Linked DNA regions of Homo sapiens. The protein of the gene in region 4 interacts with the protein of the main gene of each other region in a biochemical or structural test. Each region holds a gene or a part of one and is shown on either strand. Other genes may lie near its edges. The genes, in order: RAD51, RNF20, SKP1 and FBH1.

Region 1 (7,820 bases), on a different chromosome or scaffold from region 4:
TCATCTCATACAAGGAACAAATAGAACAGTGGTAACCAGAGACTGAGGAGAATGCAGCTGTTGCAGGGGGCGGCAGGAAGGAGAGAGGTTGGTCAACAGGCACAAAGTTTCAGTTAGATAGGAGGAATAAGTTCTAGGGTTCTATTTCACAGTAGGGTGACTACAGTAAACACTAATGTAATGTATACTTCAAAATAGCCAGAAGCGAGTATTTTGAATGTTCTCATCACAAAGAGAAATGACAAGTGTTTAAGTGAACTGATGGATATGCTGATTACCCTGATTTGATCATTCATTATACAATGTATATATGTATTGAAATATCATCTTGGGCCAGGTGGAGTGGCTCACGCCTGTAATCCCAGCACTTTGGGAGGCCAAGGCGGGTGGATCACCAGGTCAGGAGATCGAGACCATCCTGGCTAACATGGTGAAACCCTGTCTCTACTAAAAAATACAAAAAATTAGCTGGGCGTGGTGGCAGGCTGAGACAGGAGAATGGCGTGAACCCAGGAGGCGGAGCTTGCAGTGAGCCAAGATCGCGCCACTGCACTCCAGCCTGGGCGACAGAGTGAGACTCCGTCTCAAAAAAAAAAAAAAAAAAAAAGAAATATCATCTTGTATCTCATAAATATGTACAATCGTCTGTCAAAAACAAAGTAACACTTATTATTTTCACAACCTTGGGACAGAAAAAGATTTCTTGAAACTGGATGCATAACGCACTAGCCAAAAAGGAAAAGACTGAAAACTGAACTACATTTAAATTCAGCACTTCTACTGGGCACTGTGGCTCACGTCTGCAATCCCAGCACTTTGGGAGGCCAAGGCGGGCAGATCACCTAAGTTCAGGAGTTCAAGACCAGCCTGACCAACATGGAGAAATCCTGTCTCTATTAAAGAAAAATACAAAATTAGCTGGGCGTGGTGGCACATGCCTGTAATCCCAGCTACTCGGGAGGCTGAGGCAGGAGAATCGCTTGAACCCGGGAGGCGGAGGTTGCGGTGAGCCAAGATTGTGCCATTGCACTCCAGCCTGGGCAACAAGAGCCAAACTCTGTCTCAAAAGGAAAAATAAATAAATAAATAAATAATAAAAAAATAAATTCAGCACTTCTATTCATCAAAGGACACCACTAAGAGAGTGACAAGTCAAACCACAGTAGAGAAAACATTTAGCACAAACATAACTGAGGGCTGATAACCAGTATATAAAGAACTTCACATCAGTAAGAAAAAGATAATAGAAAAATAGGCAAGAGATTTGAACAAGCACATCACAGAAGATATCAAAATGGGCAAAAACATATGAACAGATGTCCAACATCATTATTAATCAGGAAAATTAAAATCACATTAAGACATTACTGTGTAACCAGCAGAATAGTTAAAATCAAAAAGGCTGAAAAATATCGTGTTGGCAAGCATGTGAAACAACGAAACACTCAACACTCCTGATGTATTTTTATATAAAATTCAAAAACAAGCAACATTAGTTCATCTCATTAGAAACCAGTATAGCAGTTACCACTGTAAAAAGGGGAAAATATTAAATACTACACAGGAAGGCTTCTGAGGACCATTCTATTAAGTGGTGATTACATAGGTGTATATTCATTTTGTCTTGCTCTATCGCCCAGGTTGGAGTGCAGTGGCCTGATCACAGCTCACTGCAGCTTATACCTCCCAGGCTAGATCCTCCCTTCTCAGCCTCCTGAATAGCTGGGCCTACAGGTGCACGCCACCATGCCTAGCTAATTTTTCCTATTTGTAGAGATGCGGGTCTCACTATCTTGACCAGGCTGTTCTCGAACTCTTGGGCTCAATCGTCCTCCCGCCTCCACTTCCCAAAGTGCTGGGACTACAGACGTGAGACACGACGCCCGGCCAGTATATTTTGTAATAATTCACGGAGTTGTATACAGTTGTGAATGTGAATTTTTCTACATGTATATTACATTGCGCTTTAGAAGTTAAAAACAAACAAACAAACAAAAAAACAGGGGCCAGGCGCTGTGGCTCACGGCTGTAATCCCAGCACTTTGGGAGGCAGAGGCGGGTGGATAACCTGAGGTCAGAAGTTCGAGACCAGCCTGACCAACATGGTGAAACCCCGTCTCTACTAAAAATACAAAAATCAGCCTGGCGGCGTGGTGGTGGGGGCCTGTAATCCCAGCTCCTCGGGAGGCTGAGGTAGGAGAATCGCTTGAATCCGGGAGGCGGAGGTTGCAGTGAGCCGAGATCGCGCCACTACACTCCAGCCTGGGCGGAAGAGCGAGACTCCATCTCAAAAAAAAAGTTTTAAGAAAACCAAACCTCACTTCAGATCATTCTCTAGGCATCATGTGAATGGTTTTCCGCATTAGATGATGAAAACACTGTTTTGGCAATCGGAGATTGGTACTTTCTAAGCACGGTGTAATGGAAAGACAGATCAGGAATCCGGAAGCCCTGGCTGTGATATTAAACAGCTGTGGCTACACCGCTCTGATCTCGGACTTCTCGCTCGAACCCATAAAATAGGTGTTGCCTATAAAGGCTCTAATGTTTCTCCCCTAGTTCTAAAGACTGAGGTCCACTTGTGTTTTCGCCCCAGCAGCTGAGGGTCGGTCGGGCGCGGACACGCCCTGCCACGTCCGGGTTTCACACTGCGCGCGGAGGCCCCAACTGCCGCTGAGCACTGGACCGGCCAGGACGCAGGTGGGCGAGGACGAGCCGCGGCTCTGGAGGGCCCAGCCTGCGCCTCACACACTCACCTCGGTCCGCAGCGCTCCTCTCTCCAGCAGGCCCCGCGCTCCGACTTCACCCCGCGGGCGTGGCACGCGCCCGACCCGCACGGCCCCCAACGCCCCTGGCTTACGCTCCACTTCTCTACTCGCTTGCCCCAGCCTTCTGCGCACAACCCAGATGAGTTGCAGTTCCCAGCTGCACGCCTCGGGAAGCGCCGCACTCTCCTTAGGGCTCGGTCTCTGGCCGCTGCGCGCGGTCCGCCAGCGGCTTTCAGAATTCCCGCCAAACCCTCTCGCCCAGGGTCACGCCCGCGTCGACGTAACGTATCCCCGCCTCCCGGATCCGCCTTCTCCCCGCTTCCGCCCTGCGCGCTAACCCAAGACGGGAGCTCGAGAGCTTGATCCTGCGCGAGTTTACAGACTGCCCTCTTCCCTTTTTGCGTAAGGACTAATTCAAACTTTATGCCGGGGGCGGTGGCTCACGCGTGTAGTCCCAGCTGCTCGGGAGGCCGAGGCGAGAGTATCGTCTGAGCCTAGGAGTTCGAGGCTAACCACGGCAACGCCCCTACTCCTACCCCAGTCCCTCGCGGGTGGGGCGAGGGATTTCAGGGGGCGGTGGGGGAAGACTTAACCGAGTTGCCGTCTTCTGTTTACCAGATCGAAGACCACGACTCCCAAGAGGTAATGCGTCGGCCCGGGACTACATCTCCCGGCATGCATCGCCGGCGGGTCCGCGAGTTCTCACCATCGCAGCTGGACTATTAGCGGGGGCCCTAGCGCTCTTGTGGTTTGTTTCGGCAGTATCTGAATGTCAGCTTTTGGCACTTCTGGTCGCTCTGAGCCTCCTACTCGCATTCCTGGAGCAAGGTGCTTTCCAGGCCTCATGGAGGTGGAGGAGCTGAGGAAGCTCGAGAAGATGGATAGAAGTGGGAAATGGAGCTAGCGTACGGGAGAGGGAAATGGCTGGAATATTCGTCAATCTGTGGTGCTTTACTGGAGATTTGCAGGAGTTCAGAGGAAGGGGGCATTGAATTTCATAACCTAAACCGTATCGTGGTTTACCAGAAAGTTTTGACCCGTGATTCCGGTTTTAAAGGCTGAGTAGGGCCGGGCGCGGTGGTTCACGCCAGTAATCCCAGCAGTTTAGGAGGCCAAGGCAGGCGGATCACCTGAGGTCAGGGGTTGGAGATAAACCTGGCCAACGTGGTGAAACCTCGTCTTTAGTAAAAAATACAAAAATTAGCCAGGTTTTGTGGCACATGCCTGTAATCCTAGCTACTCGAAAGGCTGAGGCATGAGAATCGCTTGAACTCAGGAGGAGGTTGCAGCCAACCGAGATCTCGCCGCTGTACTCCAGCCTGGGCGACAGAGCGAGACTGTGTCAAAACAACACCACAAGCTAGCTGAGTAGGGATTCTTGGGCGAAGTGGAAGACATTATAAGCAAATAGGGTAGTATGGGCATGGAAACGAACTACATGATTAAAGATTAGTATTATCTGGCGAGGGAGGAAAAGTGCCAGAGCAAGTGCCGAAACTGGAAGGTTACATTTAGTTCAGGATATGAAGATCATATAAGGCCTGCACGGTGGCTCACACCTGTAATCCCAGCACTTTGGGAAGCCAAGGTGGGGGAGGATCGCTTGAGCTCAGGAGTTGGAGACCAGCCTGGGCAACATAGTGGGACCCCATATCTCAAAAAAAAAAAAAAAAAAAATAAGCTGGGCGTGGTGGCTTGTGCCTGTGGTCTCAGCTATCCCGGAGGCTGAGGTGGGAGGACTGCTTGAGCTCAGGACGTCAAGGCTGCAGTGAGCTATGATGGGCCACTGCACTCCAGCCTGGGCTACAGAGTGAGACCTTGTCTCAAAAGACAAGCGACAACAACAAAACATGTAAGGAGAGGCCAGGCGCGGTGGCTCAAGCCTGTAATCCCAGAACTTTGGGAGGCCAAGGTGGGCGGATCACGAGGTCAGGAGTTCAAGACCAGCCTGGCCAAGATGGCAAAACCCCATCTCTACTAAAACTACAAAAATTAGCCGGGCGTGGTGGTGCATGCCTGTAATCCCAGCTCTTTGGGAGGCTGAGGCAGAGAAGTGCTTGAACCCGGGAGGTGGAGGTTGCAGTGAGCGAGATCACGCCACTGCACTCCAGCCTGGGCAACAGAGCAAGACTCCGTCTCAAAAAAAAAAAAAAAGGTAAGGAGCTTTGGTCTCTAGGTACTGAAGAAATCATTGAAGTTTTTAAGAAGACAAGTCATTTGGTTAGATCTATTTTCCCTCCACTTACCAATTTATTTTTATTTTTATTTATTTATTTATTTATTTATTTTAGATGGAGTCTTGCTCTGTTGCCCAGGCTGGAGTGCAGGGACGTGGTATCAGCTCACTGCAACCCCACCTCCCAGATTCAAGCGAGTCTTCCTGCCTCAGCCTCCCAAGTAACTGGGATTACAGGCGCCTGCCACCACGCCCAGCTAATTTTTTGTATTTTTAGTAGAGACAGGGTTTCACCATGTTGGCCAGGCTGGTCTCGAACTCCTGACCTCAGGTGATCCACCTACCGTGGCCTCCCAAAGTGCTGGGATTACAGGTGTGAACCACCGCACCCGGCCTTATTTTTTTATTTTTGAGACAGCATCTCGCTCTGTTCAAGTTGGCCTTGAACTCCTGGCCTCAAGTGATCCTCCCACCTTGGCCTCCCAAAGTGTTGGAATTACAGGTGTGAACCATTGCAATGGCCTTATTACTACTTTATATTTGTGGAGTGCTTTAAAGTTGACAAAGTTTTTAGTTAATCCTCACACTATTACCTTGTGGCGTTGAAGAACAGATTTCAGGAGCGTGAAAGTGAAGACACCAAAAAGGAAGTTCTTGCAATATTTCAACAAAGAGATGAAGATTTGGATTAGATTCCAGTTCTACCTTTTTGGCACCAGGGAGCTGTTCTGTGAAAGACAATTTTCCACAGGGCTCGGGGGGTGGGCATGAGGCAGAGGATGGTTTCGGAATGAAACTGTTGCACCTCAAGATCATCAATTAGATTTCCATAAGGAGTGTGCAATCTAGATTCCTCACAGGTGCAGTTCAAAATAGGTTTTGAGTTCCTGTGAGAATCTAATGCTCTCCTTGATCTGACAGGAGGCAGAGCTCAGGCAGTAATGCTTGCTTGCTAGCTGCTCACCTGCTGTGCAGCCCAGTTCCTAATAGGCGACAGGTCTGTGTTGGGGCGTTGGGGTCCTCTGAATTAGAGGAATGACAGAGAGAACAGACTCAGGCAGCTTTCTGGATGTAGAAACAACCTAACTTAGTGATTATAGATACTACCTGTGATAATAGTGAACTTTCTTCCATATCAAAGTTACACACCTTTGCCTCCGGTTCTTCCCACACCCTTAGAGCATCTGCAAACCTACAGCCCTCCTCCTAGCTGACTGTAGTCACATGACTTTTACCTTTCTGGCCACCAGTTGTACCAGCAGTGTTCATCTGGCCCCAAATTGGCCAATCATTTTCCTGCTCCTGGAAAATTAGACTTGGCTTTATATTCAAGTCTGACCTCAGGAATTTATGGGGCAAAGTACACAGATAGATGTGTGTGAATGTCCAATCAGAGAAAGCACATCTGCAGAAAGATTAAGAAATTGATGTCGGGTGTGGTGGCTCAAGCCTGTAATCCCAGCACTTTCGGAGGCTGAGGCAGGCGCATCACCTGAGGTCAGGAGTTCGAGACCAGCCTGACCAACATGGTGAAACCCCATCTCTACTAAAAATACAAACATTAGCCTCCAGCTACGCAGGAGGCCAAGGCAGGAGAATCGCATGAAACTGGGAGGCAGAGGTTGCAGTGAGCTGAGATCGTGCCACTGCACTCCAGCCTGGATGACAGAGCAAGACTCTGTCTCAAAAAAAAAAAAAAAAAGAAAAAGAAAAAGAAATTGAGATACTAAGGAGAGAGTCAAAGATAAATAAACCATTTGAATTCTGACTCCTTTCCAGATCGCCTTTCCAGTTTCTCAGAAGCCTAGCAGTACTTACTCCTCCTGCTCTTGGGTTCTTTTTTACTTTTTTTTTTTTTTTAAAAAAAAAACCTTGAACTCTTAAGGATTAATGCTCTTGAGTTATGAGATATCCCTACATTCCAATAACTCTACCTTCTATTTTTATTGATTAAACTAGTTTGAGTAGTTTCTGTTCCTTTCTTCCAAAACAACCCACTGAGAACTTGGAAATAAGGCAAACTAGATTTCCCTCTAATAGTTAAATTGGCATTCTCTGAGAATATTTATAAATGTGTTAATTGAAAAATTTTGGAGTGTGGTGGCTCACACTTGTAATCCTAGTGCATTGAGAGGCTGAGGTGAGAGGACCATTTGAGGCCAGGAGTTAGAGACTAGTCTGGGCAATGTAGTGAGACCCCCCAACTCTACAAAAAAAAATGTTGTTTTGTTTTTTTTGTGTTTTTGTTTTGAGATAGAGTCTCGGTCTGTCGCCAGGCTGGAGTGCAGTGGTGAGATCTGGGCTCACTGCAACCTCGGCCTCCCAGGTTCAAGCGATACTCCTGCCTCAGCCTCCCGAGTAGCTGGGACTACAGGCACATGCCACCACGCCCGGCTCATTTTTTGTATTTTTAGTAGAGATGGAGTTTCACCATGTTGGCCAGGATGGTCTCGAACTCCAGACCTCATGATCCGCCTCGGCCTCCCAAAGTGCTGGGATTACAGACGTGAGCCACCGCGCCTGGCCAAAAAAAACCTTTTTTTAAAAATTAGCCAGGTGCGGTGATGCACACTTGTAGTCCTAGCTGTCTGGGAAGCTGAGGAGGGGAGATTGCTTGAGCCCAGGAGTTCAAGGTTACAGTGAGCTATGATTGCACCTTGCACCACTGCACTCCAGTCTGGGCGAAAGAGTGAAACTTTGTCTCAAAAAAAAAAAAAAAAAGTATAAATACATATATATAAATGTATATATATAGAGATACATACACACACACATACATATATATGTATTCTTTATATATAAGGTAATGTGTATCAAGTGATCTAATCTGCTCCTAATTCACCTCCTCTAGTATGCTTACAAAATGAGAGTCCTGG
Region 2 (7,024 bases), on a different chromosome or scaffold from region 4:
ATGAGAGATTAATTGCACATGAGGGAGTAAAATTGTAAAATTTAGGAGGCAAGAAAGCTTACATACAAAAGACAAGGCAAGGCTATTACCTCAATAAGCTCAACCTGGTGCTGGTGGGTTCCTCTGGTGCCATGAAGCAGGGTCCGAGCCTCATCCAAGTGTGCTTTCAACTGTAGGCTCTCATTATACAAGACGGAGAACTGTGACTGCATGCAGCGATATTCTGGAGTTTCCTTAACGACTTGCTCCACTGCACTCCGCAATTCCACCTTAGGAGGGCCCAAAGCAAAGTCAGAAGCAGAATCTAGCATTGCCCCAGACGCTAGACAGGAAGTAAAATTTTGAACTCACTGATGTCCTACACAAGAGAGACAATTTTATAAAGATTATTAAGTTATCTACCCATTGCTGTAGTTATGTAAAATCTACCCCAAAATTAAATTAGACTAACTAGGAGATGGTACCTGGATATACTGTATTCTTTCCTCCTAGAATTGTTTTGATATGTGTTTTATATTCTGTGTCAAATGAGCCACCAGAAGAGTGAAATTTGTCAGGATGCTTATTTTAAAAACATAGTTGAGGACCCCAGTCACTAACTTGTTCTCTTTAATAACAGTGACAGAGAAAAAAATTGACAGGGTATCAAAAATAGTTATGCCTCTCCTAAGCAACTATCTGATTTAATTACTCAAACACTTTTAACTGATTTAACTTAGGTTGTTTTTGTTTTTTATTTTTCAGTTCAAACATCTTTATTCATATCATTTAACCTACAAACAACTTGTAAAATAGAGATGACTATGATCGAAAGAGGAGTGAGAAAGACTTCCAGAATCTCTTTTCTTCTCCTAAGATGTGGGCGGCAAGCCACCCAGGTGCCGAGGCAAGAGACCGAGGACACGAGCTGTTCCAGTATAATAAAATATAAAACAAGAATAGTTATGCCAGATATAGATCTTAGATATGATTATATATGAATATCATTAATCATCAGTTTGTAGCAATTACTCTTTATTCCAATATTATAATAATCCTCGCTCTATAATCATAACCTAGGAAAAACCAGGCCATACAGAGATAGGAGCTGAGGGGACACAGTGAGAAGTGACCAGAAGACAAGAGTGCGAGCCTTCTGTTATGCCCAGACAGGGCCACCAGAGGGCTCCTTGGTCTAGCGGTAATGCCAGCTTCTGGGAAGACGCCCGTTACCAGGTGGACCGTGGTCTAGCGGTAGCGTAAGTGTCAAGGGAAAACACCTGCTACTTAGCAGACCAGGAAAGGGAGTCTCCCTTTCCCGGGAGGAGTTTAGAGAAGACTCTACTCCTCCACCTCTTGTGGAGGGCCTGACATTAGTCAGGCTCGTCCGCCGTTATCCGGAGGCCTAACCTGTTCAGTGGTCACGCTCCTAGGCCGCCTTCATGTTCCATCCTGTACACCTGACTCTGCCTTCTAGATAGCAGTAGCAAATTAGTGAAAGTATTAAAAGTCTCTAATTATCAGAAATAATGGCATAAGCTGTTTCTCTCTCTGTCTCCTCTCTCTCTATGCCTCGGCTGCCAGGCAGGGAAGGGCCCCCTGTCCAGTGGACATGTGACCCACGTGACCTTACCTACGATTGGAGATGGCTTGCTCTCCTTATCCTGCCCCTTTGTCTTGTATCCAATAAATATCAGTGCAGCCTGGCATTTGGGGCCACTACCGGTCTCCGCAACTTGGTGGTAGTGGTCCCCCAGGCCCAGCTGCCTTTTCTTTTATCTCTTTGTCTTGTGTCTTTATTTCTACACTCTCTCGTCTCCGCACACAGGGAGAGACCCACCGACCCTGTGGGGCTGGCCCCTACACTAACAACCTAAGAAGAAAATTCTTCTGGGCAGGTTTGAAGACCAACAGGATCACCAATCGTGTTTCTTTCTCTGTTTTGGTAGCAAAAAACTGCAGAGCCAAACCTGTGGAATCACTTCGGTAAGCACTGACATGTGAATGGCCTCCCTTCCACAGTATATATATGCCCCCTGCAAACATCTTGTATACAAGCCCCACTTTAATGCATTTTGGATCCTCACCCTAGTTTACCCTACTTCTCATTTTTCTCAACAACTCCTACATTACAGCACCTTGATTTAGTCTACATATCTTTGTATGTTGCTTTAAATCCTTTTCAGGGCAAGGCAGAGTACATATAATAAGTAAATATGTAAGTAAAGAAGTAGATATATCAACAAAACTTAACATTTTTTCTTTGTTCCCCCCAGCTTTATTAAGGTATAATCAACAAATAAAAATTATACATATTTAAGGTATACAATGTGGCATTTTGCTATACATATACACTGTGAAATCATTACCACAATCCACCTAATTAACAAATCCTTCACCTCACAGTTATCTTTTCGTGTGTGGCAAGAACATTTAAGATCTACTCTTAGCATATTTCAAGTACACAATACAGCATTAATTATAGTCACCATGCTACACATCACCAGAACTTATTCATCCTGCATAACTAAAACTTTGTACCTTTTCCCCAACATCTTCCGATTTCCCCAACCCTGGTAACCACCATTCTACACTCTGCTTCCAAGATTTTGACTTTTTTAGATCCCACATACAAGTGAGATCATGCAGTATTTGCCTTTCCGTGCTTGGTTTATTTCAGTTAGCATAATGTCCTCTAAATATATCCATGCTGTTGCACATATACACACACACACTCACATACAAACACACACCACATTTCTTTATCCATTCAGTGTACAGTTCTTTCATCTCCCTGGTTAAGGTTATTCACAATTTTTTTTAATGGTATTGTAAATGGGATTGTTTTCTTAATTTCTTTTTTATAGAGTTTGTTGTTGGTATATAGACACACAATTGTTTTTGTATGTTGATTCTGTAGCCTGCAACTTTACTGAATTCATTTATAGTTCTAACAGTTTTTTCGTGGAGCCTGTAAGGTTTTCTATATATAAAGTCATGTCATCTATAAACAGAAACAACTTTACCTCTTCCTTTCTGATTAAGAGGCCTTTATTTCTTATCCTTGCCTAATTACTCTGGCTAGGACAAAAGTAATGACAGCGAGCATCTTTATCCTGTTCCTGATCTTAAAGGAAAAGCTTTCAACTTTTCGCCATTGGGTATAATGTTGGCTGTGGGCTTGTTTTATATGGCCTTTATTATGTTGAGGTACACTTCTTTACACCTAATTTGTTAAGAGTTTTATCATAAAAGGATGTTGGATTTTGTCTACATTTTTCTTATCCCTCATGAATACGCAGATTCACAACTATGTATATACGTGAGTTGATCAGCAGAACGTCTGATTTTACTGCCCTTCAGGGATGCGTTCCTACCTTCAGCTTTTCATTTTGTGTAGTGACCTCCTCAAAGTCTTGCCGAAGTTTCTCCAGCTCACAGAGACGGTTCTGAGCCAACTCTTTGTTCTCCTCAAGCTCTGCATTCATTTCCTCAAACTGCAGAGAAGCAGAAAAATAGAGAATAAATAAGTATTCTTCTTAAATCATTTCTAAGCTTCCTTTCTTCACTGATTCGCTATTCCAGCAAAACCCCATGATGTCACTTGTGAACACAGTCCTAAGTACCTAAGCATGAAAGCTGACATACAGTCCAAAACATGTCCTGAGTCACTGATTTTACCTTCCGAGCATTGATAGTGATTGTGCCGCCATACAGACTGCTCCCCGCTCCATACACCTTATAACCTTTGGAATTCACCTACAGAGAACACAAAGATTCTTTAGTGAGAGACTCTTAAGATTTCAGTCTATAACCAATGTACCTTCAAAGGATGAGATTTTTTCCTCAAATACCATGCCCCAAGGTGAGTCTTCCTGAGAACACTCCTTAAAATGATTCTAGTCTCCAAGCCATAAAACAGCACTGACCCGTTCTAGGACTTCTGCTAAGTGTCGGTTGAGTCGCTGTTCCCTCTTTCGAATTTTGTCAATATCCCACTGCAGGTCATCAATCATGGACTCCAGGACAGACACTCGTGATTCGGCTGTCTCCACTTTACTCTGCAACTTGGAGAACTACATCCCAAAGACAAACATTCAGAAACATATAGCAAAAAAAGACCAAATTCCATAATATTAACCCTTGCTTATGAGTAATTATAGAAAAGAGGCAAATAGAAGATGCTTCACCCTCTTCCCAATGCATGATTACAAAAATGAAATCACGGATTCCTCCAACAATTCTGTGTCAGTTATAATCATGCAAACTTTAAGTCTAAAGTCTATAAGAACTCTCACACAAAGAAAAGACCACCTAAGATTCAACAATTTTTCTACCTCTGAAAAGCACCATTTCTCTGGACAGACCACAAACTCATAAAAATTTTGTAATTTTTTAAGAGATAATAAATAGTATCTTTTGTTTTGTAAGATAAATATTTTTTCAAAAAAACCATTTTTACCCCCAAATTTCTCTCCACAGTCCCACAAAAGGTAATCCATTCATTCACAACAAAAGAAAACTTCCATACTCTTTTTTAAGCTCACCCCAGAGCAATCTAGAGTCAGATACAATACAGTATAGATTATACTATAATCTAAAGTCAGATACTCTATTTAGGAGCTATACACCAGCTAACACTATTTAGTATTTTAACTACTAAACTATTACAAGTTCACATTAATCTATATATACCCTTTGTGCTAGGTTTTAAAACATGACACAAAAATCCTTTGAAAGTCCTCTGAACAAGAGGTGGGATCTTTGTTCCCTCCTCTTGAATCTGGGTCAACTTTAGAGACCCAATGGAAATGTCACTACACAATTTTGAGGCTATATCAGAAAGGCCATGAAGGTTCTACCTGGTGATCTTGGGATGCTCACTGGAAGAAGTCAGCCAACATGTAAAAATTCCAACCATCCTGAGACTACCATGATGGAGAGGCAAACTGCAGGTATCCCAGTAGACAATTAACCCAGCTGACAGGCAGCATCAACAGCCAGCCATGAGAGCCAACAAGGACATCACAGTTTAGCAAACAACTGCCCTCCAGGTTAGTAATACTATCTGAGATTTGTCAAAGGGCTAGAAAAGGAAGACCTCTCCATCTTGGTAGCACCTAGTCAATGTCTTAAAACATGATAAAAATATTCTATTTTCTTACTAGACTCCAGTTTATTTATAAGGGCTACTACATTCTAACCCCTTTGAAGGTCCAGGATAATCCATATGAATTAATAAATTCCCCAGATGATATTCATGCAACCAGGCCAGCATGGACCTTAACACTGGGGTTTAGTAAACAAAGGCATATGAAGAACAAGAGCTTTGAAGTCAAACAGACCTACAGTCACAACACAGCTCAATCACTTTCTAGCTATGTGCCCTCAGAATAATCACTAACCTCTTTGAATTTGTTTCTTTGGCAATAAAATGGGAGTTGTTTTGCCATTAGAGATAACATTCATAAAGTGCTTAAATTCTAGGCACTAAGTAAATGGCAACTACTAAATTACTAATTAGCATAAGAATTCAGTGGCCAAACTAAGGTGGGGCAAATTCCAGTAGAATATATTTTGAACTAAATCAAAATGATCATCAGAAGTATCAGAAAAGTCATTTAAGGCCTATCATCACTTTATCTTGATCATTTTGTGTAAATAAATAAATGTCCAAATCTTGGCATGGTTTAATCATGGCATTATTTGCACCCAAGTTTAGACTGAAAATTGACATTCCTCAAATTCCTAGGACATCATCAATACAGTAGTTTCTACTTCCCCATTCCCTGTGGAATTTCTACCACGCCATTCCTCAATAACACTATACAGTCTTTTATATTTAGGGTAATTCATTATTTGGAGGTTTGGAGTTGTGTTGTGTTTTACAAAATCCCCTATGATATGATAGGCCTTCTAGAGTAAGGTAATCTTTGAGGTGCTCAGAATTGTAAGTCAACATCTGCCACAGCCCACTAGACACAGCCATCTCTCCTTTTTGGTTAAGTACCTCCTGAGACATGGTGCGATGCTTTTCCTGAAGAAGATCTGTCAATTCCTGTAGCCTCATATTCTCCTGTGCGAGGAAAGAGTTCAGCTCCTGCACTGCTTCCTCCACTATCAGATTATCTGGGGAAGAAGAACTATACTTTAATTTAGCATCTAGAGTGTCATTTTTTTTTTTTTTTTAAGACGGAGTCTTGCTCTATCGCCCAGGCTGGAGTACAGTGGCGCGATCTCGGCTCACTGCAACCTCTGCCTCCAGGGTTCGAGCCGATTCTCCTGCCTCAGCCTCCAGAGTAGCTGGGATTACAGGCACATGCCACCACACCCGGATGATTTTTGTATTTTTAGTAGAGATGGGGTTTCACCATGTCGGACAGGCTGGTCTCAAACTCCTGACCTCAGGTGATCCACCCACCTCAGCCTCCCAAAGTGCTGGGATTACAGGTGTGAGCCACCGTGCCTGGCCTATAGTGTCAAATTTTAAAACTGTGTATCCTTGGCCAGGTATAGCAGCTCACGCTGTAATCCTAGCACCTTGGGAAGCCAAGGCAGGCCGATCACTTGAGGCCAGGAGTTCAAGACCAGCCTGAATAACAAAGCAAGAATCATATGCTCTTATCACATATTCTCATATCATATATTCTGAAATACTATGTTAGGGGCACTTCTGAAGCTTAAAAACCAAAATGTACACTACTATTTACAAAGCAGGTAGGTAAATCCATAGAACTTATTACACCAAGTTCGTATGTTTAAAATTAGAGTTGCAAATACTATAGCTGAAATCCAAATGTAATTAAATGAAACCAGATACTCTCAGGATATATACCACCCATCAAAGAGAGTTATCAGGAAGAAAAATATGCTTTCTCATATCACCTCTTGGCATTACTCTTAGTATCAATACAGAACAGGTTGGTCATATGGTGGTTTTCATGGTTTTCAAGCTAGGCTTGCCCATCAGAATCACTTGTGGAACTTTTAAAATAGACATTTCCCTAGGACCTATCTCATACCTACTTAATAAGAACCTCCATGG
Region 3 (7,024 bases), on a different chromosome or scaffold from region 4:
AACCATGTCTAATGCTTCCTACCAAGGAGAAGCCAGGAGCTACACTTTAAGGATTCAGCCATTTTGTAAGCTTTCCCTTTGCTTGCAATCTTCTTATTCTTGACTTCTTCCTAGCTTAAAAAGTTATAGACTGGTTTCAAATCCAGATAATTGAAGATTAACTTTTCAAATCCTCAAACAACTTTGTAGGGAGAACATTTACTTGGTTGATTCCTTCCTACCAGAATGTACACTGAGCTTTAGAAAAGGAAAAATTGGTGGGTGCTGTGGCTCACATCTGTAATACCAGCACTTTGGGAGGTTGAGGCAGGAGGATCTTGAGCCCAGGAATTCGAAAACAGCCTGGGCAACATGAGGAGACCTCATCTCTATAAAAATCAATTTAAAAAAACAAAAACTAGCAAGGCATGGTAGCACACACATGTAGTCCTAGCTATTCAGGAGGCTGAGGCAGGAGGACTGTTGGAGCCCAAGAGTTCGAGGCTGCAATGAGCTGTGATCACATCACTGCACTCCAGCCTGGGGGGCAGAGGTGAGACCTTGTCTCTTAAAAGAAGAATCAAAAAGCTCTTCGGGCTACTCTGGGCACACTGCCTATGGGGTAGTCCTGCTCTGCAAGGAGCAGTTAAAAAAAATCTTCAAAAGCTAATGGTGGCAAGCAAAAGTTAAGCTTGTAAAGGGTGCTGAGAGCAAGAGGTCTGCTGCTCTCTCAATTTTCTCTTTTCTGGTGGAAAATCACCTTATATTCCCAAACTGCCTTATTGAGAGCCTAGGCAAATTAACTTAAACAAAATTTATGTTGGGATCAGAACACAGCCCATAGGATTGGTCAATTTTTACGTAAACTGAAAAATCAATGTGATTTGGAATATCTGCCTGCCCTAAGTGAGATGCCCACAGTGACTCACTGTTACTATCCTCCCTCCCCAGCTAGTTTTAAGATAAGCTCAGCATTACTATGATGTCATGTTACAAGGCTGCAGTTACCTGTCCAACCAAGTCACAATATAGTTCTTGCTTAATTCCAGGAGCTGGTGTATTCTGACAGTTGTAGAGTAAAAAGTCACAGCTATAATCCCACACAGGGAGCTACAGGATGATTTTGTGAATCTCTGAGAAAATATAAGAACTGTAAAGCAGTATCTATTTTGTATACCAAGAATAGATTAAGGCAAGCTAACACATGGCACTTCAAAAGAGTAACTTGCTTCTACAACTTAAGAATTATTAGGGCCGTGTGCGGTGGGTCACACGTGTAACCTCAGCACTTTCGGAGGCTAAGGCGGGCGGATCACAAGGTCAGGAGTTCAAGACCAGCCTGGCCAATATGGTAAAACTCCATCTCTAATAAAAACACAAAAAAATTAGCCAGGCATGGTGGCATGTGCCTGTAATCCCAGCTACTCGGGAGGCTGAGGCAGGAGAATCACTTGAACCCAGGAGGCGGAGGTTGCAGTGAGCTGAGATCGCACCACTGCATTCCAGTCTGGGCGACAGAGTGAGACTCTGTCTCAAAAAAAAAAAAAAAAAAAAAAAAATTATTAGAATTTGAGGGGGCACATCTTTAGCCTATGACAATGTTAAGGAGAAAATAATAAGCTAACATTCAGGAAGGTTTTGGTTTACTTTTAGATCACAAGTGACATAATCAATGAAAAGGTGAGAAGCCAAAGGACTGCCATGGAGTCCTTGAAAGGACTTCATCATTAAAAGCAGCACACTGCAGAAAGCAGCATGTTGTTTACAGAGGAAACCGACAAACATCCTTCAATCACCCAAATCTGCCAAATACCTTCTTCCTCTCATTCTCTTTCCTGGTGAAATAAAAGGCATTTCCTAATTAATCCCTAAGTTTACTTTATCAACAAGGGTTTTCTTTCCTTTACTACTATAACAGTAATTAGAGAAAGTCTTCATAATTCATCAGTAACCACTCTCCAAACCAAGGCTATTATCAGCTATTATCAAGCTCTCCCCTCTCATGCATTAAAACTACTCTTCTTGTTTTCATTATGCCCTGTACCTGCATTTCACAAGGACTTTTCACTTCTGTTACTTATACTGAAATTCATGGAGTAGTGCTGCTAAATACAAGTTAAATCCTGCTGTCAAGTGACTTCCAATGAAGTTCTGGAACTAATATAAAGCAGACTGCACTAGATCTATAAAACCGTAGTACCTATTTCCAACTTGCCCAAGGCCATGAAGACACTAAAACTCCAGCCTCAAGGTATGACTTAATGCCACAATATTAGTTTAGAAGAATAGTTGGGAAGTAAGAGAGTAGCCAGAAATGAGTGGAGTTTTGAAGACTGAGGTTTGGCTACTGTGATAATGAGAAAGGACCACTCACTCCAGGTGAAAGCCTAGAAAAGTTCTAGTAGATATATTAAAGGAATAGTGGGCATACAGCAGGGAACAGGAAAAAGAAAGGTAGGAAAATAATACTGCAACCAGACTGAAAAGGGCTTCTTAATACCATGTCTATGATTTATTTGGGTCCACAATGGTGAAAAATGGCTTATTTTCTCTTGGATCTCTATTAATGTAAAAGTTTAAGATTACTAGGATTTTTTGTTGTTTGTTTAGGGACTACAGAAAGTCAGGAAACAAAAATTTAAATTACTACTATATTGTCTGTCCATCCAATCTTTCTGAAAGATCTCATTATCCTTTAAATACGGATAGTGACGTTATTTACTCATATAATTCTAACTACTGCTGAGTATTATACAGATCAAGTGGTAATAACAAGCTCCAGTTTCTTAGAAGGTGATACTTCCTTTACAAGTTAAACATGGCATATGGCAGTAATCCTGGACCTTCAGTGAAGATTTGTTTGTCATAATACTGCTAAGGATACTTCTGGTTTGTTTTTGAGACAAGGTCTCGCTCTATTGCCTAGACTGGAGTGCAGTGGTGCAATGCCAGCTCACTGCAGCCTCGACCTCTCAGGCTCAAGCCATCTTCCCACCTCAGCCTCTCAAGTAGTTGGGATTATAGGCATGCACCATATGACTGCTAATTTTTTTTTTTTTTTTTGGAGAGACAGGGACTTTCTGTGTTGCCCAGGCTGGTCTTGAACTCCTGGGCTCAAACGATCCTCCTGTCTTGTCCTCCCAAAATGTTGAGATTACAGGCATAAGCCACCATGCCCAGCTGCTAAGGATACTTGAGGTGGATAAGGTTTTTGCAGAAGTTGATCTTATAATAGCAGGAATTGGTAGATGAGACAATTCAGCTAGGACTATACACCGCTACCTTCCCCACTAAAACCAGGACAAACAGAAAACAAGCTTATCTCCTGAGAGAGAGAGAGAGAGAGAGAGAGAATTTTAAATAACTCTTTACAACGTAAAAACCATTTTTAGCTCAAAGACTACAAAAACAGGCTATGGGCCTGATTTGACCCACACATTATAGTTTCCTATCTCTGGTACAGACAACAAATTGGAATTAAGTGAGACAACATATGGGACTTTATTAAATAAGGTGAATTTGGGACAAATGAAAGGTGAGATGAAGGCAAACTACTGTCAAGGGATGATCTGAGCCTGAACAACTCAGTGAATGTGAAGAGAAAACAAGATTACATGTGAATATAGATGTTAACTGGAAAAGCAAGGAGAAAAAAAGGGAGCACAAGGAAGAAAAAAAAATCAAAATTTGTGAGCCATCTCAAGCCATCAAAAAAACTTCATTCTATTGTAGGAGGGAAGCTGGAAACAATGGCAGAGTAATTTTGTGTTAAGAATTAAAGTACTAGCTCCAGTTAGGCATATAAATGACAATTAGAAGGGACAGAAGTTATGGTTATGTCAGCAGCCTCCAGTGAGCTAGGATATAAACTAAGTCTTTTCAAGCTGAACAAATATATACACATTCAACCCATTTAAGTGAAGAGACACATTTAAGTCCACAAAAGCAAACTTAACTACCTACTATATAACTTACTTTTTATTGAAAGTATCTTGCATTCATGATGGATGCTTTCTGGGTTTTACCACATATTTTAATGTTAAAAGTTAAATTATTCTTTACATGCAAGTAGTGTGAATAATTTTCTCCACATGGGAACACTAATTATAAAAAGATGACATCCCACATGGGTTAAGTGTCTTTTTAATTGAAAAGCTAACTGTCCAGTTACATTTCTCCCAAAAAACCACAAACTGGGTAGTAACTGAGTCTCTAGGCAATATATTTAAAACTAAGAGGATTAAAAATAAAGAAAAAGAAAACAAGTCCTCAGATGCAATGAAGGGAGCCCTGCTACATACAGGCTAATCAATACAGTGGTACTCCTTGACTGCAGGAGGCTGGAAGACATCCTAGTAGCTCCACTCAGAACATTTACTTCAAGAAGCCTTTTTCCAGTTTCCAACTCATGAATAAAGATAATATTTTGTTAATTCTATTCCAGAAAACTTTTTTGCAAGTTGTTTTATTTACAATGCCAACTTTTAAAAGGTCACTAAAGTTAACTGGACAATAAACTAGGCAGACATTGCTTTACAAAAAAGAGGGAAAGCCCAAAATGCCACTTATAGAGAACCCACAGTTCAGTTTTATTCAGAGCAAAGAAAAAAGAAACTTTCCATCATACTAGAAGAAACTTGGCCGTAAGGTTTGGGATCTGTGCTCAAACTACACATGCAATGAGGACAATATTCTGCTAATACAATTGACTTGCTGCTGCATTTGTCTACTGTTTGTCTAATATTAACAATTATAAACAGAGCAGTGCAACTAGTATTTGGAACAATCCTTACAGTGTTACAGTGTCAGGCACAACATTTCACTTCTCTTCACACCACTGGTTCTCTTTGCGTACCTAAAAGAGATGGATATAGGGAAGTACCTTAACTTGAGTAGTCTTTCCTAAGACTTATAAATACTACCTACTGATTCATCGATAGCCAGTGAGTTGAGTCAGAAGAACAGATGGAAAATTAGAACAACACCAGGTTAAGACTATATTTCCGGATTTCCTTTCTTTGCCTCCCATGGTTTTTATTCTGCCCTGCTGAAATTATGAACAAAGCAAAGGCAATGGGCAATTTACTAAAGTTGACAGAGCAAATTCAGTTAATTCATTCACATTATTTCAGTCTGTAGTCATGTCAACAAAATCATTCTGATCTATTCTTTCATTTCCTCCCCTCATTAAGTTGCTCTAAAGTACCCTAGTATATACTTCTCTCTAGGGCCTGCTTTTCTGATGTCAGATATGTATGGTCTATACAGAAAGTTGCAGGTGCCAAAACTAGTAACTGTTAATACATTAACAAGAGCTCTTCTCATTGAAAACTAATTGTTCTTATGCTTAAAATGCAGTATCATCTAAGTGTTCAGATTCATAAAGACAGAACAGTAAGAGTATGTTTAAGACACATTAAGTACATATTATCCCTAAAGTATCAAGACTACTTGATACAGTCACCTCTTTTGCTGGCATGTTATAGGTGTTACTCCCTTTTTAAGAGCATGTGATCAAAGACAAAACTGTGTGCTACCTACCTGGGCTTCCTCCTCTTCAGTAAAGTCATTTTTGATATTGAAGGTCTTGCGAATCTCCTCAGGAGTTTTCCCCTTGATCATATTGGCAACAGTCTTGCATGTAACATCAAGCAAACCTTTGATGTCTAAGTAGTTTGCAGCCTGTAAAGAGACAGTTGTTTTCCTTAAAGTATACTTGATGTTTTAAACTAAATCCAAAGTTAATGATTGACACTCCGTATCTAATAAAGCTTAAAATGCTAATTTTAAGAAATTAAAGGGAGAAGAATAAATCACTCCTAAGTTCTTCTGTGAAAGACTTTTATGTGACCTTCTTTGTTATACCTCTATAATGTTGAATCCTTCTGCTTCCTTAACCAAACTATACTAGCTCAAATGTGAAATAACGGCCACTACTGTTGTGTATGTGTGTACACATGCACACAAATACCACATCAGGTCTTGGCAAAAATATTTGTCCACACTTAAAGAGTTCAAACGTAAGCAGTTATAGCACTATATTGATCTCATTTTAAAAAACAGGTTTTGGTTTCATTGACTTTATTGTTTACCTGTTTTCTATTTCATTGATTTCTGCCCTTTAATATTCTCATTCTTCTGTTTACTTTGTAGTTAATTTCATCTTTTACTAGTTTAAGGTGGAAGCTTAGATCACCGATTTGAAACTTTTCTTCTTTTCTAATAATATAGGTATTTCATTCCATCAATTTCCCTCTAAGTACTTCTTTAGCTGCATCTCACCGATTTTTCATGTGTTTTACTTCCACTCAGCTCAAAATACTTTCTATTTCTTCTCTGACCCATAGGTTACTTGCAAATGTGTTAGTTTAAAAGTAGTTGCAGATTTTTCCAGATACCTTTCTGTTTGTGATTTCTAATTCCATTGCAGTCAGAAGACATACTTTGTATGACCTGAATCCTTTTACAATGGAGACTTTTTTTTTAAGACACCGTCTCACTCTGTCACCCAGGCTGGAATTCAGTGGCGTGATCTCGGCTCACTGCAATCTCTACCTCCTAGGTTCAGCCAATTCTCTTGCTTCAGTCTCCCAAGTAGCTGGGATTACAGGTGGGTGCCATCTCACCCAGCTAATTTTTTTTTTTTTTTTTTGAGACGAAGTCTCGCTCTGTCACCCAGGCTGGAGGGCAGTGGTGCGATATCGGCTCACTGCAAGCTCCACCTCCCGGGTTCATGCCATTCTCCTGCCTCGGCCTCCCGAGTAGCTGAGACTACAGGTTCCTGCCACCCCACCCGGCTAATTTTCTATATTTTCAGTAGAGACGGGGTTTCACCATGTTAGCCAGGATGGTCTCGATTTCCTGACCTCGTGATCCGCCCACCTTGGCCTCCCAAAGTGCTGGGATTATAGGCGTGAGCCACCGCGCCCGGCCTAATTTTCGTATTTTTAGTAGAGATGGGGTTTCATCATGCTGGCCAGGCTGGTCTTGAACTCCTAGCCTCAAGTGATCCACCCGCCTCACCCTCCCAAAGTGTTGGGATCAC
Region 4 (7,024 bases):
CCGAAAACTCTGAAAACAACAAGACAGAGGGAGTCAGCAGCCCGCCCTGTGGTGTGTCCGTGCATTTCCATCACTGCTGCCACAGCCTGGCCGGGCCAGACCCTACAAGTTGTTCCTGACCCCCCGCATGGAAAGCGAACTTCACAGGCTCACTTTCAAGGTCCTTCACAACTCAGCAGTCTTTATTTTCCATTATTCTCAACACCAATAGTAAATTTTTCTTTTAAGCAAATCTACCCTTTTCTCCAAATCAAATCTAGTGAAGTCTAAATCATACAAAAGATGAAGATCGGGTAAGGAGGGCTTCTCCCCTTGCCTTTGAGATCCCTCTCCACACTACCTTTAAAACTACTGCCCTGCACCAACCAGCCATGGCAGAAGCACTAGCACCTGCACATTGTCCGTGCTGCCCTGCCTCAGCCCACGCGGTTTTCTGTCTGACTTTCATCCACCAAAGTCACTTCCTAACCTTCAAAACTCAGCCCAAGACCCTGCTTCCTTCGCCCCTCCAGCTGGCAAGATATCATTCTTCCCTACACTCGGGGTGTGTACAGCCTTTTTCCATGCACACACAACTTCATGTGCTTTGGTGAATAGCAGTAACAGTCAAACGAAAACTAGACTTTAAACAAACACTACTTTGTTGCTATAAAACTACTCTGAGTGAACCATAACCGAAATTATAACATAAATATCCATGAGTTCATATTAAGATAGATAAATGATTGAATATTTAAATAGATGGGAGAGAAAAAACAAATCTCCTTTACAGAAGAATTCCAAATAATTTGGGAAGATTCTCCAACACTTACTCCTTGAGTGTGGACTGCATATAGGGACTTCCTTCCAAAGCATCCAGTAAGGAAAGGATGAAAAAAAGTGGAACTCTACAGTGAAGAAACCTGACAAACACTACATCAGCCAGGTGGTCAAGGTCAACATCAAGTCATGAGCCATGGTGACAGTATGCACCTCAACACCATGTGATGAAAATGGCGCTTCACCTCTGTGGTCTTCCTCCCAGAACCCAGGACTCTAGCCTAACCATGAGAAAAGACATTAGACAAATCCCAGCACAGGGGCAGCCTACAAATGCCTGACTGGAACTTCTGGAAAATGTGAAGGTCACATCAGAAATAGGGAAAGTCTGAGCAACTGTCACAGCCAAGAAGAGCCTCATGACACATGGTTACATGTAATGTGGGATCCTGGATGGGCTCCTGAAGTCACAAAAGACATTATTTCAAAACTAAGGAAATGCAAATGAACCATGGACTTCAGTCCATAATAATGTATCAATGTTGGTTCATTATCGTGACAAGTGTTCCACATTAATATAAGACGATAAGATGTTAGTAATGGGAAACTGAGTACAGGATATATGGGAACTCTCCTCTCGATTTTTCTGTAAATCTGAAACTGTTCTAAAAAAATACCATCTATTAAAAGAACAAATCACCTCTGCAGTGACGCTACCCTAAATCACCACAGCAGTAGGAGCTCAAGGGAAGAGTCACAGAGGCGTCTACGGAACTTTCAATAACATCACAAAACACAGCACAGTTGATACTTTCATCCAAGTGAGACATCTCTTCTAATCAGAAATAAGTTTCTTAAAAGCAGTGGTTCTCGAACTGCTGGTCTCAGGATGCTTCACACTTAAAAATCACACTTAAAAAGCCTCCAAAGAGCTTTTATTTACATGAGCTCTATCTATCTATATTTACCATATTATAAATTTTAATTCATTTAAAAATAACTATTAAAAACTATTTTTTTTTAAGACAGAGTCTCATTCTGTCACCCAGGCTGGAGTACAATGGTGCGACCTCGGCTCACTGCAACCTCTGCCTCCTGGGTTCAAGTGATTCTCCTGCCTCAGCCTCCTGAGTAGCTGACACTACAGGCGGGAGCCACCACACCTGGCTAATTTTTGTATTTTTAATAGAGACAGGGTTTTACCATGTTGGCCAGGCTGGTCTTGAACTCCTGACCTCAAGTGATCTGTCCTTCTTGGCCTCCCAAAATGCTGGGATTACAGGCATGAGCCACCATGCCCAGCCAAAAGCCTCTTATATGATGACATAAAGAACATATTTTTTGAAACATATTTCCGAGAACAAAAAAAAATGCAGCAAGAAGAGTGGCACCATGTTCCATTTTTGCAAATCTCTTCAATGCCTGGCATAACAGAAGACTGCTGGCTTCCTGTGTTCACATCTGCATTGCCTGCTGAGATATACTGTCTTGGCTGACACACATGAAGAAAATTCAACCTCACACAGACATGTGATTGGAAAGGAAGGAGCGCATAATAAACTTTTCGCATAATCAAGGACACTGTGAGTTGTCACATTCATTATGGGAGAGTTTGCCAACATTTTAATTTCACTTGAAAGCAAAGATGTTACTTTTGACAACAAACACTGTCAGTTATTTTCCCTGAAGTCGCAGCTTGTTTCACTTGTCTTTGAAAAAGTGCCAAATACACAAGTCTGAACAACCAGCGCTGGTCTAACAACTGTTCTAAGCACAAATGTACAAGGCGGCAGCAGCCATCGGTTCACAGTTCAGCCGCAGCAGCTCTTCCTCAGACGACCGCTGTGCACACACCTCTTATGAAAACAGTGTGACTTGGCAGACCCCTGAGAACCACACTTTGAGAACCATGGCTTAGAAGCAAGGATTTGCTAGATCTGGTGAGCCTGGCATACCACCTTTCACAGGGCCTGGCACGTAAGACATTGGGAGAGAGATGCAATGCCTCCCATGCAGAGTGCGCACTTACCTGCGTGAGATAGAAGACGTGGGTGTGGGGCACTGTGAACAGGGCGTTGACCGCACCCCGGAAGGTATAGATCTGCTGGTGCGGGTCCCCTACAAAGATTTTCCCACATGGCTGAGACAGAACTATGTTCATGATAGCTGTAACCAACGAGAGGAAAAGTGAGAAACCTTGAGGCCTCCACCCCAGGCAGCAAAAAGAAAAGGACAAAAACACTTCCACGAAGCTAAGCCAGGGCACACTGGACCTCACGGTCGCCTTTTCCTGTAGGACAGGCACACTCCATCAAAAGCAGCCATTTTATAATGGACAAAAGAAACAGTTTCTGGTGCTAGGAATGCAGATTATGTTTCGCCTTGGATGAATTGTTGGAATATAAGAAAACAACACAGGCAAATCTAAAATGAGGCAGTGTCTTCTCTAATATTATAGCACTCAAAATTGACCTACAAAGTCAGACGGATAACACTGTCTGTTCTCTCCTAGCCACTTGAGAAGTAGACAACACAAGCTTTTCCCTGTCAATGGACGATCTCTTCCCACAGAGCATGAGTCTAGGTCCCTGTCGTCTGCTGGTCTACAACTTGGTCAACATGTTAAGAACAACCTAAGCAAAACCTATGGTGACAGAGAAATCTGCTTGGGTGAGGGGAAGGGGCAGCTTGAAATCCTAAGGTAAGTATGAAGATCCTCTTCTTTATCACAAATAATAATAATCAACTTAGTTCACACAGGTGTCCTCTTACATAATCATGGCGCTGTTTCTACGTATTTGACACTACTGATGTCCTGAACAGTGTATCACCTGGTGTGCAGTCCTGGGCCTCATCCACAAAGATGGCGTCAAAAGAGGCCAGCGAAGGCTTGCTCAGCTGCCAGAGTTTCAAGTAGCCTAAAATAAGGAGAGACGCAGGAGTTGTAACGCCAGGAAGGCAGTCCCATTGGCCAGTCCCCGCCATTCGGCAGCCGCCTACCGTCATGAGTCATCTGGTGCGCCTCTTCTGTGCACTCCCCCAGCTTCCGCATGTTATCCCAGAGGCGGCTCGCTTCAAGGACACCATTCTAGGAAGTAAAGCATATGGTAACCCAGAGTTTGAGACCCTGGCAAAGGCAGCACCCTGCGGTCACACTGTCAACTCCCATACAGCAGTGGAGCCAGGGCATCCTCACAGAAGGGGGACCGCAGACACCACCCTAACCTCCTGGGTCTCCTCAACAGCCTCTCCACGCCAGAGGGTCTCCAGTGCTGAGACAGGAAGCAGCCGGGCCGTGCCATGCCCGTGACAGGACAGAGATCATAACAGTTAGGTGAACCAGAAAAGGCCAAATTGTTCTTCTAGATTTATGACTGATGCTTAATTCACAAAAACAATGGCACATGATTGAAAAGACTTGATGAAAAAAAGAAACAGACTTTCCCACTAGCAAAATCTATTCCATAGAACCAATAACCCAAGAAAATCAGGAGAGATTCCAGCCTTCAGTTAAGATCAGTTTTGAGGTCCAGGAGCCCCAGTGACAAGCTCTTATAAACTGAGGCGGGTCGTTCCATGTCTGCCTTCTCTGTTAAATGGGAGGACTATTCCGAGGCTTAAGTGAGATGGTCACCAGTGTCCTTCACAGGAGAAAATACCCAACAATTCACAGCCATCACCATGGGCCTACAGCCTCACCCTCCCACCTTCAACCTCCTATGACCAGGTCTGAAGAAATGAAAGAAGAAATAATGCTGTCCCACACTCCCTGTTTGCCCATCCTCAGATCCCTAACACTTCCCGTTCCCCCATCCTCAGATCCCTAACACTTCCCCTGATCCCCCATCCTCAGACCCCTAACACTTCCCATTTCCCCATCCTCAGATCCCTAACACTTCCCGTTTCCCCATCCTCAGACCCCTAACACTTCCCCTGTTTCCCCATCCTCAGACCCCTAACACTTCCCCTGTTTCCCCATCCTCAGATCCCTAACACTTCCCCTGTTCCCCCATCCTCAGATCCCTAACACTTCAGACACTTAGACACTCACCAGTTTTTCACTCTGCTCAACCATGACTCTCTGTCCTTGGCTGTTCTTACACCAAATAGGCACGTGATCAATGGTCAGCTCTTCGTCAGCCGAGGCAAAGAAGTTTTCTAGAGTCTTACACACAAGCTTGGCTCTTATGAATCCACCCTTCCCTTCAGCAAGGACGGAGTTGACCATGAAGGGTGTTAACTTGAAGAGATTCAACTTCTTCTTTGACTGGTACCTGCAATACCCATCCCAAATGAACAGCACGTGGCTCTCCTGGCTTGGTGCTATTGAACGTCCCCTCCATTCTCTCTAATGTCACCAGGAGGTAGCTTCAAGTGCCACACACAGGCGAGTGTTAATGTTTTAAAGCGAAAAAGTTCTGCATGGTCCATGTCTGACTGGAAATGGCTTTCAGGACTCACATGTACCAACCCAGAATAGGAACCAGCTTTCGGCAGACACTGCTATTCCACCATGAAGCTGGGCTCCAGAAGGTCCCCGGAGGGACCCTTGGAGTTCCCTGATGCCTCTACATCCAGGAGACCTGGGTCAAGTGTGCCTCGGCTGAGTCTTCCTCACTCCCTTCCAAGAAAAGCCTACAACTGATCAGGATTTGTGAGACTCTGAACTTTAAGCAAGTCATTTTGACTTTCTGTGCCTCACTTCCATGAGAACACCCCTCTTGGCAAGACGGCATTATATGTAAACAATATGTTGCTACAGGATAAAAGTACAAATGGCTAAACCTATGTATTTGTTTCCTGCCTGTAAGTGGAGATAACAGCACTACACTCCTCGGGGTCACTGTGGTGTAAGCTCACATGTGATCGTCACGGGAAAACAGTAAGACGCGACCGTGCCAGCAGCAACAGTGCCACTAGTGACAGCAGTACTCACTTCCGCCCTATGTGCCCGTAGGCCATGGAGTGGAAGGTTTTGCAGATGACGTTGCTGGGGAAGACGCGTTCGGCCTGCTTTGCGATGCTCTTGTTGAATGTCACATACAGAAACCTGCTCTGAGACCACTTCTCTGCATACTTGACCAGCGTTGAGGTCTTCCCAGTGCCTGGGGAAGCCAGGAGGAAAGGAGGTGACCCTCTGACCAGACAAGACATGCCCAGGGATCCCCAATCAGGCCTTGTCCAGGCTTATCACACCTCTGTCTTGAGAGCAGGACAGTAACAAGTTTTTCAGTGCTGGTAAAAGTAGTGCCACCAAAAGAGCAGCAGATTCAAAGCCAGGTGAAGGTGGGCTGGGATCTCAGCTGGGGCAGGCTCCAGCCGAGGGGCAAAGGACAGGTGGACCCCTTGACCTCATGAGCTTCAGTTTGCTTCTCAGAAATAAGTGGGTATCCATTAGAGGTAGGGTTCCCGAGGGCAAAAAGGACCCCTCAGGATAGGAGGGTAGGGTTAGGGAGGGGGAAGGCATGTCTCTGGAGAGAGACAGGTCCAGCTTTGAATTCCACCTCCACCACCTATCCACTTATTCAACCCCGGGCAAGGCTCTCTGTGCTTCAGTTTCTTCCTCTATAAAACAAGAATAACTAAGCAACCTTACGGAATGCTATCAGGATCAGCACAATGCCAAGCACACTGCAGGCATTCAAAATGTTGTTGTTGTTGTTAGCAGGGTATTTAGCCACAAAAGGAGCAGGAAGGGATTACAGGCAGAAAAAAAATAGCAAATAGCACGAGCAAAGGCTGTGATGAAAGAGTAACCAAGTACTTCAGGAGGCTGTGAGTGGATCGGCGTGGCTGACTGAGGCAGGACACTTGTAGATAATATATTTATGAATGTAAGTTAAAAGCCAATCTAAGGCAGGCCCTCTAGACATCACCCTATAAAACTGGGGAGCTCCTGAAACCCTGGGCTGGGGATTAACATGCCCTCCCTCTCCAGAAGCAATCAGTGCCTGAGCAAACATCACAATGCTGGGCTCAATCCCGGGGGCATCTGCCCGACCAACTAACTGCTGTGAACTACCTGTCTCAACAGGAATTCTGTGGATGTTCATGGAGTGGTCCGGGGAAGTAAGTATTCCTTGGCCAATTGCTTTTGAGATTGATTATTTGATCTGTTATTGAATTATTAGTTGGATGACAGATCAGAGCAAAGATGCCCTGGCAGGTAGCGGGAAGGGGATGTAGGGAGAAAAGGCAGAAAACCACCACCTCGTGAACCTGATGTGGGCTCCCTTACCGGCAAAGGCCATAATTTTCACCACCT

What was found.
Region 1: the proteins of FBH1 (region 4) and RAD51 form a complex in vitro, tested with the Homo sapiens proteins (2 studies listed by BioGRID, with this or other methods).
Region 2: the proteins of FBH1 (region 4) and RNF20 form a complex in vitro, tested with the Homo sapiens proteins (one study listed by BioGRID).
Region 3: the proteins of FBH1 (region 4) and SKP1 form a complex in vitro, tested with the Homo sapiens proteins (one study listed by BioGRID).

Annotation. Positions count from the first base shown.
Region 1 is NC_000015.10:40,690,362-40,698,181, reverse strand, and holds the start of RAD51 (DNA repair protein RAD51 homolog 1), read right to left. Parts: upstream 3,009-7,820; 5' UTR 2,757-3,008; intron 2,651-2,756; exon of another isoform or gene 2,556-2,650; intron 2,549-2,555; exon of another isoform or gene 2,317-2,548; intron 1-2,316.
Region 2 is NC_000009.12:101,543,851-101,550,874, reverse strand, and holds part of RNF20 (E3 ubiquitin-protein ligase BRE1A), read right to left. Parts: intron 6,109-7,024; coding exon 5,990-6,108; intron 4,056-5,989; coding exon 3,909-4,055; intron 3,739-3,908; coding exon 3,661-3,738; intron 3,477-3,660; coding exon 3,357-3,476; intron 270-3,356; coding exon 90-269; intron 1-89. UniProt on the Homo sapiens protein: Component of the RNF20/40 E3 ubiquitin-protein ligase complex that mediates monoubiquitination of 'Lys-120' of histone H2B (H2BK120ub1).
Region 3 is NC_000005.10:134,152,935-134,159,958, forward strand, and holds part of SKP1 (S-phase kinase-associated protein 1), read right to left. Parts: intron 5,662-7,024; coding exon 5,521-5,661; coding exon of another isoform or gene 5,494-5,520; exon of another isoform or gene 4,835-5,493; coding exon 4,799-4,834; 3' UTR 1-4,798. UniProt on the Homo sapiens protein: Essential component of the SCF (SKP1-CUL1-F-box protein) ubiquitin ligase complex, which mediates the ubiquitination of proteins involved in cell cycle progression, signal transduction and transcription.
Region 4 is NC_000010.11:5,914,243-5,921,266, reverse strand, and holds part of FBH1 (F-box DNA helicase 1), read right to left. Parts: coding exon 6,998-7,024; intron 5,865-6,997; coding exon 5,696-5,864; intron 5,034-5,695; coding exon 4,811-5,033; intron 3,848-4,810; coding exon 3,760-3,847; intron 3,678-3,759; coding exon 3,591-3,677; intron 2,926-3,590; coding exon 2,789-2,925; intron 10-2,788; coding exon 1-9. UniProt on the Homo sapiens protein: 3'-5' DNA helicase and substrate-recognition component of the SCF(FBH1) E3 ubiquitin ligase complex that plays a key role in response to stalled/damaged replication forks.